Linked DNA regions of Homo sapiens. The protein of the gene in region 1 interacts with the protein of each later gene in a pairwise test. Each region holds a gene or a part of one and is shown on either strand. Other genes may lie near its edges.

Region 1 (7,034 bases):
ACCCTTACATGTATGAAAGGCAGCAACTTCTCATGGCAAAGTCTAGTCATAAATAGTGTATTCTGTATATAATTTCAGTAAGTGCTATTTGATTAGTCTACTCATTCATAAAAATATTTGTCAGGCATTAGGCTTGGAGCTGAGTATACAGCAGTGATCAAGACAGACTGATGTTTATATTATATAGCATTTAAGAATAAATGGACTTTTTTTTTGCATTTTAATGCCAAAACCGAAGCTATAACACACTAATCCCATTTTATTTTCATTCAGTTACAGTTCAGTATGTTATAAAAATTTAGATACAGTAAGTCTTTGGTGGTTAGAAAGAATCTGTCCTCAGAGGAGATTTTGCATCTGACTTTTAATAACCTGAAAGTTTCACAGTGACTGATTCATTTTTTCTAAAAAATAAAGCCGGCAGAACAGTCTAAAAGCAAAGATGAAATTAAAACTTGATGCCTTGAGAAAGCGTTGTCAAATTTACACCTGTCTTGAAAACCCTGGAGGGCTCTCTCAAGACTCTTTGAATGCACAAACCTTTTAAAAAAAATTTCAACTTTCAAATTCCTTCGTAGAAGGACTTACACAGTATTGATCTCATCTTTGTAGTTATTTGCTTCTCTTCATTGTTAAACTCTAGCTGAGAACAGAGCTAATCAGAGGTTGTTTTAAAACCATATATATATATATACACACACACACACACACACCTATAAAACTGATGAATTCAAAAGCACTTAATATCTGCTATGAGAAACAAAATAACTGCCACTGTAGTAAAAGAAGAGAGAAATAATAAATAAGAAAATTCATTGTTGTGTCACAGTTATAAATTTCAGCATACAAATTCAAGAATAATTGAACTGTTTCTTTATGATACCGTAATTGAACTTTATTTCTAAGTTGAAGGAAATGTTTCCTAGACTGAGCTTCACCGTCTTTCTGAGTTGTTATCTGCTGAGACATATTCAATGGCCCCATCCAATCTTTGATCCTCAGGATTCACTTCTGGGTCTTTTCCAACCGGAGGTCTCTTACCATTTTGGTAGCAAGGGTATATGAGTATTAGTCTGCACAGGCTAACTGCTCTAAAAATTAACTTCCAAATCTCAGTAACTTAACCCAATAAAATCTTATTTCTCACATCATAGTACAATGTGGGTCATCAGTGTGGTGGTGATGTGGAGTAGAGGGGAAAAGATGGACCCTACTCCATGGTATCATTCAGGGATCATTTAGACAGGGATTCTTAATTTTCTGTAGCTCCCTTTGGCAATCTGGTGAAGCAGAAAAATTTTTAAAAGATGTAAAAATTATACCAGATTACAAAGGAAAACAATTTCATTGATATAGTTATCAAACTATTTTAAAAATACTTTTGTTGTAATATATGTGCTTTGTGTTAGCATATTGAATAGCCTAATAATTACTATTATTTCAAAGTAAATTTTAGTATAAATGATATTTAAGATACCTTAAGTATCTATAATGTGATATGAAAATACCTATGAGTTTTATTGGTGACAAAGTCTCAAGTATTGCTAATACTACTGTGCATTGATTCCTATGTTCATAATTTAAAGAATTGCCAGATTTCAGTTAGAGGTTGATGAAAATACAGAATTGTTTTTGTTCCAAATCCAAGGTCATGGTTCTCCTACATCTTATTAAATAGATCCCAGGTTAAGAACTCCTAATTCAATGACTCTTGTCATTTTCTAGGATCATAAGACCTTCAACTGGTTCATATACATTCAACTAGCAGATGAGAGAAAAGAATGTATATAGTGGTTAATAAAGGTTTTAAAAGTCAAGTCTTACCCAACTAACTGCAGGGGAGGCTATGATATTTAGTTTAGCTTTGTGCTCAGGAAAGAAAGGAAGGAGTTCAGCAACAACACAGCATAGTTTCTGCCACAATAGGAAACATCCTAGTGGTGCTCTGGACTTTGAGAAGTTTTGCTTCCATGCCCAGTTAGAAGCAATGGGATCATACAGCTGCTCTCACTCCATGGCATGGCCCAGGGAACTCTGTTAGGCTGTCTGAGGTTGTCTACATAAACACCTGACATATATTTATTCTGCTGCTTCACAAACTTGGGCGTGGAAAACTATGGGATTCTGTTATCTTGCTGCCATTATGCCACTAATTAAACCTGGGACAAATGACCCCTCTCCTCTGAAGTCCCCAAAACTGTCTAAATCTTCACTTGCATCCCATTTAATAGGGATTCACCAGCACATAGGTCTAGCTCCCTGAATGGAGAAAGGCTACAGTGAAGAAAGAAAGAACAGGAAAAACATTTAAAAGGCTCATACTGCAAAAGTACTATCCTTCTACAATTGTGGTGCTCCCTCCTGTGGAGCTGGAGTTCAAATACCTATAGAAAAAATGTCCTAAAAAAAATATTTTTCATTTTCCCTATCTGTACTTTTGGATTTGGGAACAGAGACAGAGTTAGAAGTGATGCTGAGCAGGACAGTTGGTGAAGAACTGGTTGATTTCATCTAAAAAATGGTAATAAAAATTGCTCTTCACACTATGAAAACGCACTGTTTTGCAGGTATTAATTCTAAGCACTGTTAATGATGTGTTTCATTTATTCCTCATAATAAGCCTGTGAGGTAGGTACTATTACTCCATTTTGTGGTTGAGGAAATCATGTCACAGGGAGGGCTGCATGTTATACAGATAGTGGAAAACAAGGATGCAAACTCAGGTGGTCAGACTCCATGATTGAGAAGATTAAATGAGTCAATCTATGTAAATTGCTAAGCACAACTCCTCACACACAGTAAAATAATCAATAAATTTTAGCTCTTAATATAATCGATAGTAAGAGTAACTTTTCAGGTTCTCTTCTTCTCCACGGTAATCAAATGATAGAATGTTGTGTATGAGCAGCAACAGTTTGCAATCTTGGATGGGAAATGCATCTTAATGATTAAAATAGCTTTCACTGACAAGCTAAATGTCAAAGCATTCAGCTGAATCAACGCTTGTCAACGGCAGAGTTTCTTGGGAGCCATAGCAATGAAGACAGGTCAGTTCAAAACATGCTGGTTGAGGCAGGAATGTCATCAAACTGCTGCTTATCTCTTGACAAGAAATATGTGCTTGATTATTAATAACAAAAATGAAAAAAATGCAAAATCTTAGTGTTTTCAATTGAGCTGGCAACATTGAGTTAAGTAAGGTTACTTCAGTGACTCTCCCTTTCTGGTTTATTCTTTGTGTCGCTAAACTGTCATTCTAACAAAAAGTTGTTAAATGTTCACATGAGCAGTCACTGAAATAGACTGTTCTTAATTTTACCAGACAACTAATTATAACTGGAATGATATAATGAAATATGGAAGAAACCTACAGACTGACAGGTCTGGTAAATTCGTAGTATAACCTTACCCCAGATATGCCAGAAACCATAGATTTCAAATGCAACTGCACTCTATGAAGATAAAGAGGGGGTTGGGAAGAGATAAAATATTGTTTTGAAATACTAATCAGATAGATGCCATTTGTTGAATTATTTATAATCTCTAACAATGTCACCTTTCAATCAGTGTATGATGTACATGTAGGATGACTGAAATACCAACTTTGTCAGAAGTAACTGATAAAAGCAGAGGTTTTTCCTAAATTTTGTACTCTATGCTCTAGTATATGAAATCCAATGGGCTTTATGGTACAGGAGGTTAGATAGAATATTTAAAATTCTTTGAATGGGCAATGATTCAAAGAGCCACCATAAAAGCCTTTCTGAAAATATTCTACAATGCCATTTCTATAGATAAATATCTTTGGAAAATTATAGGATTTTTTTTTAAAGTAAAGCCATAGTATTCTGTTTCATGTTTATAACACCATATCGACAAATAGCATGTATTTGTCAGGCTTCCATAGCCCACCTTTAAGAAAACCTGATAATGTAAAACTTTGAACTTAATAAGCAAGACATTAAGGGCTTGGGGTGGGCACAGCGGCTCATGCCTGTAATCCCAGCACTTTAGGAGGCCAAGGCGGGAGCTTTGCATGAGGCCAGGAGTTCAAGACCAGCCTTGAAAACATAGCAAGACCTAGTCTCTACAAAAACTAAAAAACATTAGCCAGCGTGGTGGTGTATACTGGTGCGTGCTTGTAGTCCTAGCTACTCAGGAGGCTGAGGCTGGAGGATCACTTGTGCCCAGGAGTTTGAGGCTCTTGTGAGCCATGATTGTACCACTGTGCTCCAGTCTGGGTGACAGAGCAAGACCCTGTCTCAAAAAAAGGACTATAATACTAACATTTTAAAGGGAATCTTTATGAAAAATACCTATACTCTTAAACAACAAACTATCCTATAGCCTTTATTACAGTGTTATTTGACTTTTTCAGTTTAATTTCTTAAAATTTTCAAGCAGTATTTACTGAGATAACTAAAACAGCTATATAACTTCTTTTGCATGCCTGTTCATGCAAAAATGAAAAAGGCAATGATGATAGTCTTTCTGACCTGTTCCTCCATATCTTGTGTCTCTTTTGTTATAGCAAATATACTTTAAAAAATAAGATTTTACATAGTATTACCTCTTACAACTGGCTTCACTTGTTATTCTGGCAACAGAATTTTCTATAACAATGATTTTGTACAAAAATGCTTTTTAACTGCTCTGTGCATAATAGTCAGCCTCAATCTTATTTACTTCTGTGTGCATATGATAGATGAAAAGGTACTGAGTAAATATTTATTGAATGAATGAATGAATGGACCTCTCAAATTACCCATATAATAAATTTTTTTAAAGGAGAGAAAAATAATGTATGTATGATTCCTCTTACCTGATATAATTACCTACTTCCTCTTACCTGATGTAATTAGGGCACTTTAATTTGTGAATAAAGAAACATTATGGTTATTTTGGTTTCCTGTCCAGGCCTCAGAAAGAAAATATGACTTATAGAGTTGGACACATTGCATCTAACTTATCAAGAGCTAAAAAGGCCTTTCATTTCTTTAGAATTGGAATAAATTTTCTTTTGAGTGGAGTAGGATGAGATAGAATTTAAAGATGACAAGCAAAATGATCTCAGTTTCTTTAGTTTTAAAATAGGTTCTTTGGGGGTAAATCCCAGTTTTTTGGTGTTCTTCCTGTCCCTTTCTCCTGGCAGAAATGTCCTTTAGATGTCAGGAAAGGTTCATGTGTTCTTATGGCAGGGAGGGGAGAGAGCCCCAGATCTGTGTGTGGTCTTTGTGCAGTCATCTGAATTCTCACTGACTGCCATGGAGATATATCTAGTCCAAACTAGTTACTGGGTTTCTTTATCTGCTGTTCCAGTCTATCATTAACTAAACCAGTATTCTTTCAGAGCTGTCAGAGCTTATAGCTCTCCCTTTCTCATTTGTTTTCTTCTCATTTTTCAACAGCATTTCAGGTCCTCATGTCTCAACCACATCTACTCTGTGAACCCTGGCTTAGTCTGTCTGCTCTGCAGCATCTGCTGTGGGGATCATCTCACAGTGACCAGAATGGCTTCTCACTCTTAACTCTATAAACAACCACCTTTCACATATCCTGCTGGGATCATGAAGGAATACCTGGACACAAGAGCCACTGCACAACAGCCAAGGAACTTTGAGACCTGCCATTACAGAACCTTTCTTGGCCTACTCACACTACGCTGCCATTTTATTCTGTTTGTAGTAGTCCTCTGTTGGGTGTGGTTATCCTGCAAGTTTTTCTCCTTTTAGAATGATGAACAGGAAGCAGGGCAAACTCTTGAAGATTTCCAGCTTTCAGTTTTTGTTTTTGTTTTTTAACCATTATTTACCTGAGTTTTCATCCTTGAGGAGGTGAAGTAGTCAGGACCATGAAGTCAGACCTCATGCCCTCTTCCTCCTCTTTCCTGGAAGAAGTATTCAGTTTCCTTTTCCTTTCTCTGGTAACTCCTCCTTTATACTATTCCCCCCTCCCTTTTTTTTGAGGAGGAGGGCATCACCTTCCCAGTGGGAAAAGGTGTTAAGTTAGGAGCTTCTACTGTACAATCAGAACTTGGAGATTTTAAGAAAAGGACAAACGGTAATTAAATTGGAATCTCTAATGTGCTTGTTTGTGTTAGTTTTTTTGTGATTATGTCACTTGGCATTTATTGAGTACCTGCAGTGTTCACACACAATGCTGGAGCCTTCATTAGTTACATATTTAACCCTCTCAGCAACCCTGTAAAGTAGGTAGTATTATCCCTGTTTTACAGATGAGGAAACTGAAGCTCAGAGAAGTGAATTAAATATCCTGGATCTGAACCCAATTCTGTTTGAATTCAAAGCCAAAGTTCCTTCTACTTTTCTGTTCCTACTCTTTGCATTTTATTTATAAATGTGTTAAAATTTTAGCAAAAATGGAGAATCTGCTGTTTAAAAATGTGTTTGCTTAATACATGGCTACTGTATGTCAATTGTAAATATTTATATAACCTACAATTATAATCTATTTTTATTATTTTTCTCTAGTAAAAATAAGTGAAGACAAAGTACCTTGACCTCTGCAGTAAAAGTTACCAGATAAATCCAGAGTTATCATTACTTAATGTTGTTTTTATGTTCACTGAATGTGAATTACCAAAGTATATAACATTTTTCATGTTTAAACTTTTATGAAAACTGGTGTGTATGGATTTAAGTCAAAGCCTGGACTTTATCTGGTGACAAGAGGTAAGTCTTTTCTGTGTAATCGTAATTAGCCCTGCTAAGCAGTTCTTACAGATCTACCCTAGTGCACTCTAAGAATGTCTGCCTAATGGTAAATGATTGCCTGAGGCAGATATAAAAGTTTTTCCCTACATGAAAGGATTTGCCATTTCTTGTGCCAATACAGTATGATAAAATCTATCTTTCCATCTTTTCCTTTTTTCTTTTTAATATTCTATCTCAACGCTAAATTATTTTATTCTTTCCTCTCAACCATGTGTTTATCTCTTTATTTTTAAATATTACAGCTTTCTAACATCTGTCTCTAGGGCAGCATAATCTTACTGATGAAGTATTCCATGTTTT
Region 2 (7,034 bases), on another chromosome or scaffold:
TAAAATGCCTGTGAAGACATAGAAAAAGACCAAGACTCACAACATCACCACAAGTGAAGACTGGTAGGCAACCTAATCCCAGAATCTAGGAGAAGCTGGCATCATTTGTAAAGCAGATTGTGTTAGATTAAGAAAAACCTACCCAGACTTTTGGTTTTGCTTCATTACACAGAAGCCACATGGTGAGATGTAGGCAGACATTAGGTACCTATCCCATCTGACACAAAGACCTAGAGCTGGAAGCCTATGGAGTGGTACCAGCCATAGCTCTGGGCAGCCAACCTGTCTGACCTCAAGGGCATTTGAGACTCAGAAAGCTGGTCCCTGCACACACACACACACAGACACACCCAGCCATACACACAGACACACAGACACACACACACACACACAGCCATGTTTCTATATCCATGATATGGTTTGGCTGTGTCCCCACCCAAATCTTATCTTGAATTGTATCTCCCACAATTCCCACGTGTTGTGGGAGGGGCCAGGTGGGAGGTAATTGAATCATGGGGGTGAGTCTTTCCCATGCTGTTCTCATAATAGTGAATAAGTCTCATGAGATCCGATGGTTTTATAAAGGGGAGTTTCCCTGCACAAGCTCTCTTCTCTTGTCTGCTGCCATGTGAGATGTGCCTTTCACCTTCCATCATAATTGTGAGGCCTCCCCAGCCACATGGAACTGTGAGTCCATTAAACCTCTTCTTCCTTATAAATTACCCAGTCTCAGGTGTGTCTTCGTCGGCAGCATGAAAACAGACTAATACAACCCATAAAGAGACTAAATCCCAGAAAACAGCTAGGAAAAATATAGAACAGCATACTCAGCCTGAGCCTGTTGTGGGGGCTTGAGGGGGAGGTAAGAGGGAAACATGGAGGAATCACCTACAGTAATTACCTGGTATGTAATTTGCCTGAATTCAAGTATATTTGCCCAGTATTGAAAGAAAAAAAGAAAAATCCCTTTACTTCTCCATGACCTTTCCCCCTTTCTCTTCCTCCATTCAAACTAGACTTGGGCTCCCACTACCTCCATATAGTTTCCTAAATACAAAAATGAACAAATATAATTTTTCTTGGTTTTTGAGCTTCCAAGCAGTTTGAGGAATTTTTCCCATCCCCCCATCCGGAACTTTAAACATCACCTTCACGTATAAGATGCAAATACAGCATCGTCTTCATGGGACCTGAAAGATGAAACCTAAATGCTGAGAGAGGCATTATTTTCCTCTGTGTGCTTTTTCTATGCTTTTTAAATGTTTAATTAGGAGCATGCACTGCATTTGAAACCAGAAAAAAATATATGATTCTGCCTAAAGACTGTTCCTGTTTAATGGGCCTGTCAGGTGACTGGGATGCAGGTGACACCTGGGGCACCTCCTGCAACCCTTTCTATGGAGATGGAGATTGGAGCAGCACGGGCACTCAGCACAGGGAGAGGGCAGTGTAAGCACCGCAGAGCTGCAGGACTCAGCCTTGTAAATGCTAGCAGGAGGCTCCCACGCTAAATGGTTAATATTTTCAGAAAAGCCCAAGGCAGATGGGGTGGGGGGAGGGTACTACATTCGTGCTTAGCAGCACAGCACAATGGACCCTGCCCTGAATTCAGAAACAAGAGACCTGAATTCTGATCCTAGCTCTCCCACTTCCAAGCTGGTGGCCTGGCTCAGTCTCTTCATCTCACTGAATCCCAGCTCCTCATCTGGCAAGTGATGAGAACAATGGTTTATGAGGTTATTTCGGAGGGTGATATAAACTAGTGTCAAAAAGAAAAATTCTCACATATAGTAAATGCAAATAGTAGATACAAATAAATGCTATTTGAATCTAAACAGCCAGGAAATAGATCCAATCTCAGAAAAAAGTGTGAGGAAGTAACAGTGGAAATCCGTCTCTCTTATTATTTCCAAATGTTCACAGTGTTAGTGCTCATAAACACACTTGCATTAGTTTGCTAGGGCTGCCATAACAAAGTGCCACAAACCGCATGGCTTAAACAACGGAAACCTGCTGTTTCCCAGTTCTGGAGGCCAGAAGTCCAGGACCAAGATATCAGCAGGCCGGTTACAAAAAACAAACAAACAAAAAAAGGCAGAAAGAATGAATGAGACCTACTATTTGACAGCACAATAAGGTGACTATAGTCAATAATAACTTAATCATACATTTTGAAATAACAAAGTATAACTAGATTGTTTGCAACTCAAAAGATAAATGCTTGAGGTGATGGATACCCCATTCTCCATGATGTGCTTATTTCACATTGCATGCCTGTATCAAAACATCTCATGTGCTCCATGCATACATACACCTACTATGTACCCACAGAAATCAAAAATGAAAAAAGATATCAGCAGGGTTGGTTCCTTCTGGAGGCCCTGAGGGAGAATCTGTCCCCTGCCTCTCTCTGAGCTTCCAGTGGTTTTCAGTGGACTTTCCTTGATGCTCCTTGGCTGGTGGCAGCATCACCGGTCTCTGCCTTCATCTCCACATGGAGTTCTCCCTGTGTGTCTCTCTATCTCCAAATTTCCCCTTTTCATAAGGACACCAGTCATTCTGGATTAGGGCCCACCCTAATGAACTCATTTCAACTTGATTACCTCTTTAAAGATTCTCTTTCCAAATAAGGTCACATTCTGAGGTACCGGGGTAGAGAGGGGGTTAGGGCTTCAACATGTGAATTGGGGGAGACACAAATCAGCACATAACAACATTCTAAAAGAACAACATTCTCAAGAGAGATGGCTGTGGTTGGGCATGAGACAGAGTGGGAGTCAGGCATGTGAGGAAGCAAGCGTTCCTGGTAGCCAAGCTAGCAGGAGCTATATCATGATTGGGCTCAGGGTAAACCCCTCGAGTCTGCTCTGCAGAGGAGAGTAAATGTGGCATATAGACTGGCCAGAGAGGCTCTGAAGGAGTCTTTATAGGGATAGGATTTTGCAGCGGAGGCCAAAGGTCTGCTGAGAGTGTCTCGAGGCTGTAGGCCTGACATGGGAGGGCTCCTGGGATGAATGGCACAGCACCATTGTCCGAGAACAGGTTTAGACACCCAACTTCACAAGGGCAGAATGGCCTTATCAGCAGGAAGATGCTATGGATCACAGGTGCACAGATCCCAGGGTGAAGGTTGGACCTCCAGGAGTCCAAACCTGAGGGATTGCTGAGTGCAGAATGAGCCAGGAAAAGACCCCTTTCTGACTCAGAGAAGACTAGGTTCTTCCCACCAGGGCCTATTAACCGAAGAAAAAAAAATCTGCAATGTTTTTTGCAGAAAAAAAAATCTGCATTTATCCTTTGAGTTACATACAATCCAATTACACTCTTTAAATTATTTAAAAATATACAGTTGAGTTATTATTGACTATCGTCATCCCATTGTGCTATCAAATAGTAGGTCTTATTCATTCTTTCTACATATTCTGGAGGAAATTCTGGAATGCACTTAGGATACTACTACACCCTGCAGTGGAGTCACCTTAAATTCATCTTTGGCTAGGGTTGGAATTGTTTTATCTAATGTCCAATGAAGACAAGGTTCAATGGACTGATATCTAAGACAAAAGCATCTAAGATGAGACTCAGGAAAGAGGTTATAAGAATGACAGACTAAGCTTCATTTGCACAGCTAGATCATTCATTCATTTATTCATTTTCACAGTCATTCAACAAATGTGTGGAAGATGCCAGGCATGCAAATATCAATCATGTGATCCCCAACCTGGAAGAGCTCACAGACTAACTAGAGAGACAGAGGAATGACCAAGCCCTGGCAATGCAGTGTGACAGGTACCATCACTAGACTCTCAAAGTGTCTGGAGAGCCAATGGCACAACATGATACTCTGCCCAGGAGACAAGGGCCATGGGAACATGAGGCTGCCTAAACCTTTACAAACTGCCTAGGTTTGTTACCACTTGTCTCTTGCAGTGATTTTAAGAAACAGCTTATAACAAAAAGGCTTGTGTTTGGCAAAAGGGGTGTAAGGAAGGTGGGGATGTTTTCTTACTGTGCAGCCCATCAGACAGACAACAAAAAGTTGAGCAGAGAGAACTGATGAGGAAAGAGAACATCATCTCTGGGGTCTACAAGAAGAAATTGACAAACAGAAGTTTTAGATTTATTCATTTATGAGAAGTTACTCAGGGTCCTGATGTAGCCAGAACAGCGTTAGGTACAGGGATAGGACTGTGTGTGAAATGAAACCTTATCTAACCCAACAGAACCCTTGCCTTACCAAACCTAACAGTCATCCTTGACGGAAGCAGACATTAATCACTAGTTATTCAAAGATAGAACCACAAGCGGTAACAGGTAAGTCAAGGCAGCTGGGGTGTGGGTGGAGGGGGTTTATCCACCAGGAAGCCCTGGCTGTCCTCTCCACAGGTGCTCTCACTCTCGGGGATGGAGTCAGGCCAGCTGGGCTGCACTCCTGTTCCTCTCCAGGGTGGGAGGGTTGGCTCGGACAGTCCCCCTTCCTCTGCTGGGCTCCTGCAGGGGTCTGTATACACACTGACCCCTCCCCAGGCAGAAAAAAACTGCTTAGTTCCTGAATGCCTCTAATGCTTTTCTACATGCCCTTCTAGTATGGACCATGGACAATGCTGACCTGAACGGTGTCCACTTTTATGTTTTTCTTCCCTATAATAGTAACTTCTTCAGGTCATCTTTGTGCCAAATGTCTATTCAGTGAACAAAAGAGCAAAAAAAGATGTCTTTTATCTTATTCTGTCAACACAGAGAAACAAAGACCTAGAATATTGTTTTCATAGCTCTATCAAAATGAATCAAGGTCAGCAAATTTAAACGTTAAACTGAAACCAATAAGATGAAATTTAACAGAAATAAATGCAAAAATTCCTTATTTGGGTTACTGAAGTCAATTATACCAATTCAGGATTCATAAGGAAAGAAATTCATTCATTCAACAAACGTTTATTGAGCGCCACCTACGTTCTAGTCACTGTACCAGGTGCTGGGTACATAGCAGAGAAAATACAATGTCCTTGATGTCATAAAACTTAAATTTGATTATAAAGAAAGATCTAAGGATTTTAACTAATCATAAGCTTAATGTGAGTCTTCAAGGTAATATGGCAACAACAACAGCAGGAAAACAAACAAATCCTAACCTGATTTTACATGCACCAAGAGAGGTTTGTTCAATGACCATATCATAGCACACCTTGTATTGCCCTATGCCGTTCAGCTGACATCAGTAGCTTGGAGTTAGCCATAGGTCCCTTGTATCAAGAGGGACTTTGACAAACCGAGTAGTGTATTTAGAGAATGTGGTCAGGCCTACCTGAGGTGTGAGAAGTGATTGAAGGAACTGCATGTATTTGACCTGGAAGACCAATGGTAAGAGATGTGACAGCCATCTTCAAATATTGAAAGAGTTGTCTGTGCAAGACTTGATCACATGGGTCTGGAGTTCACCGGGTAGAAATTACAAGGAAGCAGGAAGAGTCTCACAGGAGAACTGCTTCATAAAGTTATGGGAAAGCCTCCTTCCTTAGGGAAAAGATATTCCATCCTTAGAGATGATGCAGAAGACAATTGTGCTGTCTGAGATCAGAGTAGAATCAAGAGATCAGACTTGACTTTGAGTTTAGTGAACTGTAAAATCAAGAATTTCATAGCATATCCCCTATTAATCAGGAAGGCAGTATTTAGGAGTAGAGGCTTTGGAAATGGATAGAACTAGATTCCAGGCTGGAACTGGGAAAAGTTACTTGCAGACTTCCAGCCTCATTTCCTCACTTGTAAAAGGAGGGTGGCTATAGTTCCTGCCTCGTTCCTGAAGTGAGGATTCAATGAGAAAATTCAAAGTGCCCAATAAAGCACCAGGCCCCAGTAAGTCATTAATAAATGATGGGTAATGGTGATATTAAATGCTGTCCATTTTATTTGACTATCTTTCAGTTTATTTAGGTAAATCATTTTGCTGTCTGTAATTCTGCAAACCTCTATTATACTAAGACAATGATTTAGCAATTTAAAAATGTAAAGTACAAGTCCTTTAGAAAGTTTTGAAATGTTTTCTCTGGAGAAATTAGAAAAAAAGTGTGCTTAAGGATGCAATTTTTGGGGCTTGTGATTACACTGAGATGAAGCTAGGAAGTTATTAATGAATGGAATGACTGAGCTAGGTTGGGTCATGGCAACCTCAGAGACTTCCTTTCTCCTTGGAGACCCCCACCAGGCAACAGAATTAAAAATCAATCCAGCAGACTGATTTTATGAGGATTAAATTATGTCAGACCAATTTAATTTCCTTCTGTAACAGAGGGACAGACTTTGGTGACACAGGAAAGCAATGGATATCACATACCTTGGCTTCAGCTAGCTTTTAAATTCTAGCCTACGTAACAGTCAAATCTAAAAAATTAATTCAATTCCATTGAGTAGTGGAGATGATCTCCAAAAACAGGAACCACAGGCTCAGGATCATTTTTTGAGTAAGAAGATGCAAGAAACCTTCTTCTTTGTGGAACTGGGAGAAAAACATGCCCCCTCCCTGCAGTGAAATTCAGAATTCATTCAACAAATATTTGCTGAACACCTGTCATGTGACACACCCTCAATCTGGATTGGGCTAAGAGAAACACAAGTGAGATTTAAAAGCAGATATGATTAAATGGGACTTTTCTTGGGCAGACATGTTTGTGGAGTTGAGGTTGTGGGTTCAGGGAGGCTACAGAAGAAATGGAATCGTTGGGTTGGGCCAGGTGTTTGAATGGAGTAGGGTAAAGTTGGGGAGAACTTTTTAAAGAGAAGTTGTGCGATCAGAAAGGCCGTTGGAAGAATTCAGGCTAAATTGATTCAAGTGGGAAAACCTCAGTAGCAAGTACTGCAAAGAAGAGGCAGAAGGGGCTCTAGGAAGAGCTGACAGGACGGAGGACAGGTTCAGACAGAGCATCCATTCATTCTGAAAACTTTTACAAGTCCCAGATGTGTTCAGCACAGAAGATGCAAAGATGAATTAGCTTCTCCCCTAGCCCTCAAAAGTCCTGAAGTAGCCAGGAGAAAAG

What was found.
Region 2: the proteins of NAA11 (region 1) and BAALC interact in binary tests that used the Homo sapiens proteins (3 or more experiments, as listed by UniProt).

What each region holds. Positions count from the first base shown.
Region 1 is NC_000004.12:79,316,166-79,323,199, reverse strand, and holds the end of NAA11 (N-alpha-acetyltransferase 11), read left to right. Parts: intron 1-5,408; 3' UTR 5,409-6,553; downstream 6,554-7,034.
Region 2 is NC_000008.11:103,143,693-103,150,726, reverse strand, and holds part of BAALC (brain and acute leukemia cytoplasmic protein), read right to left. Parts: intron 1-7,034. UniProt on the Homo sapiens protein: May play a synaptic role at the postsynaptic lipid rafts possibly through interaction with CAMK2A.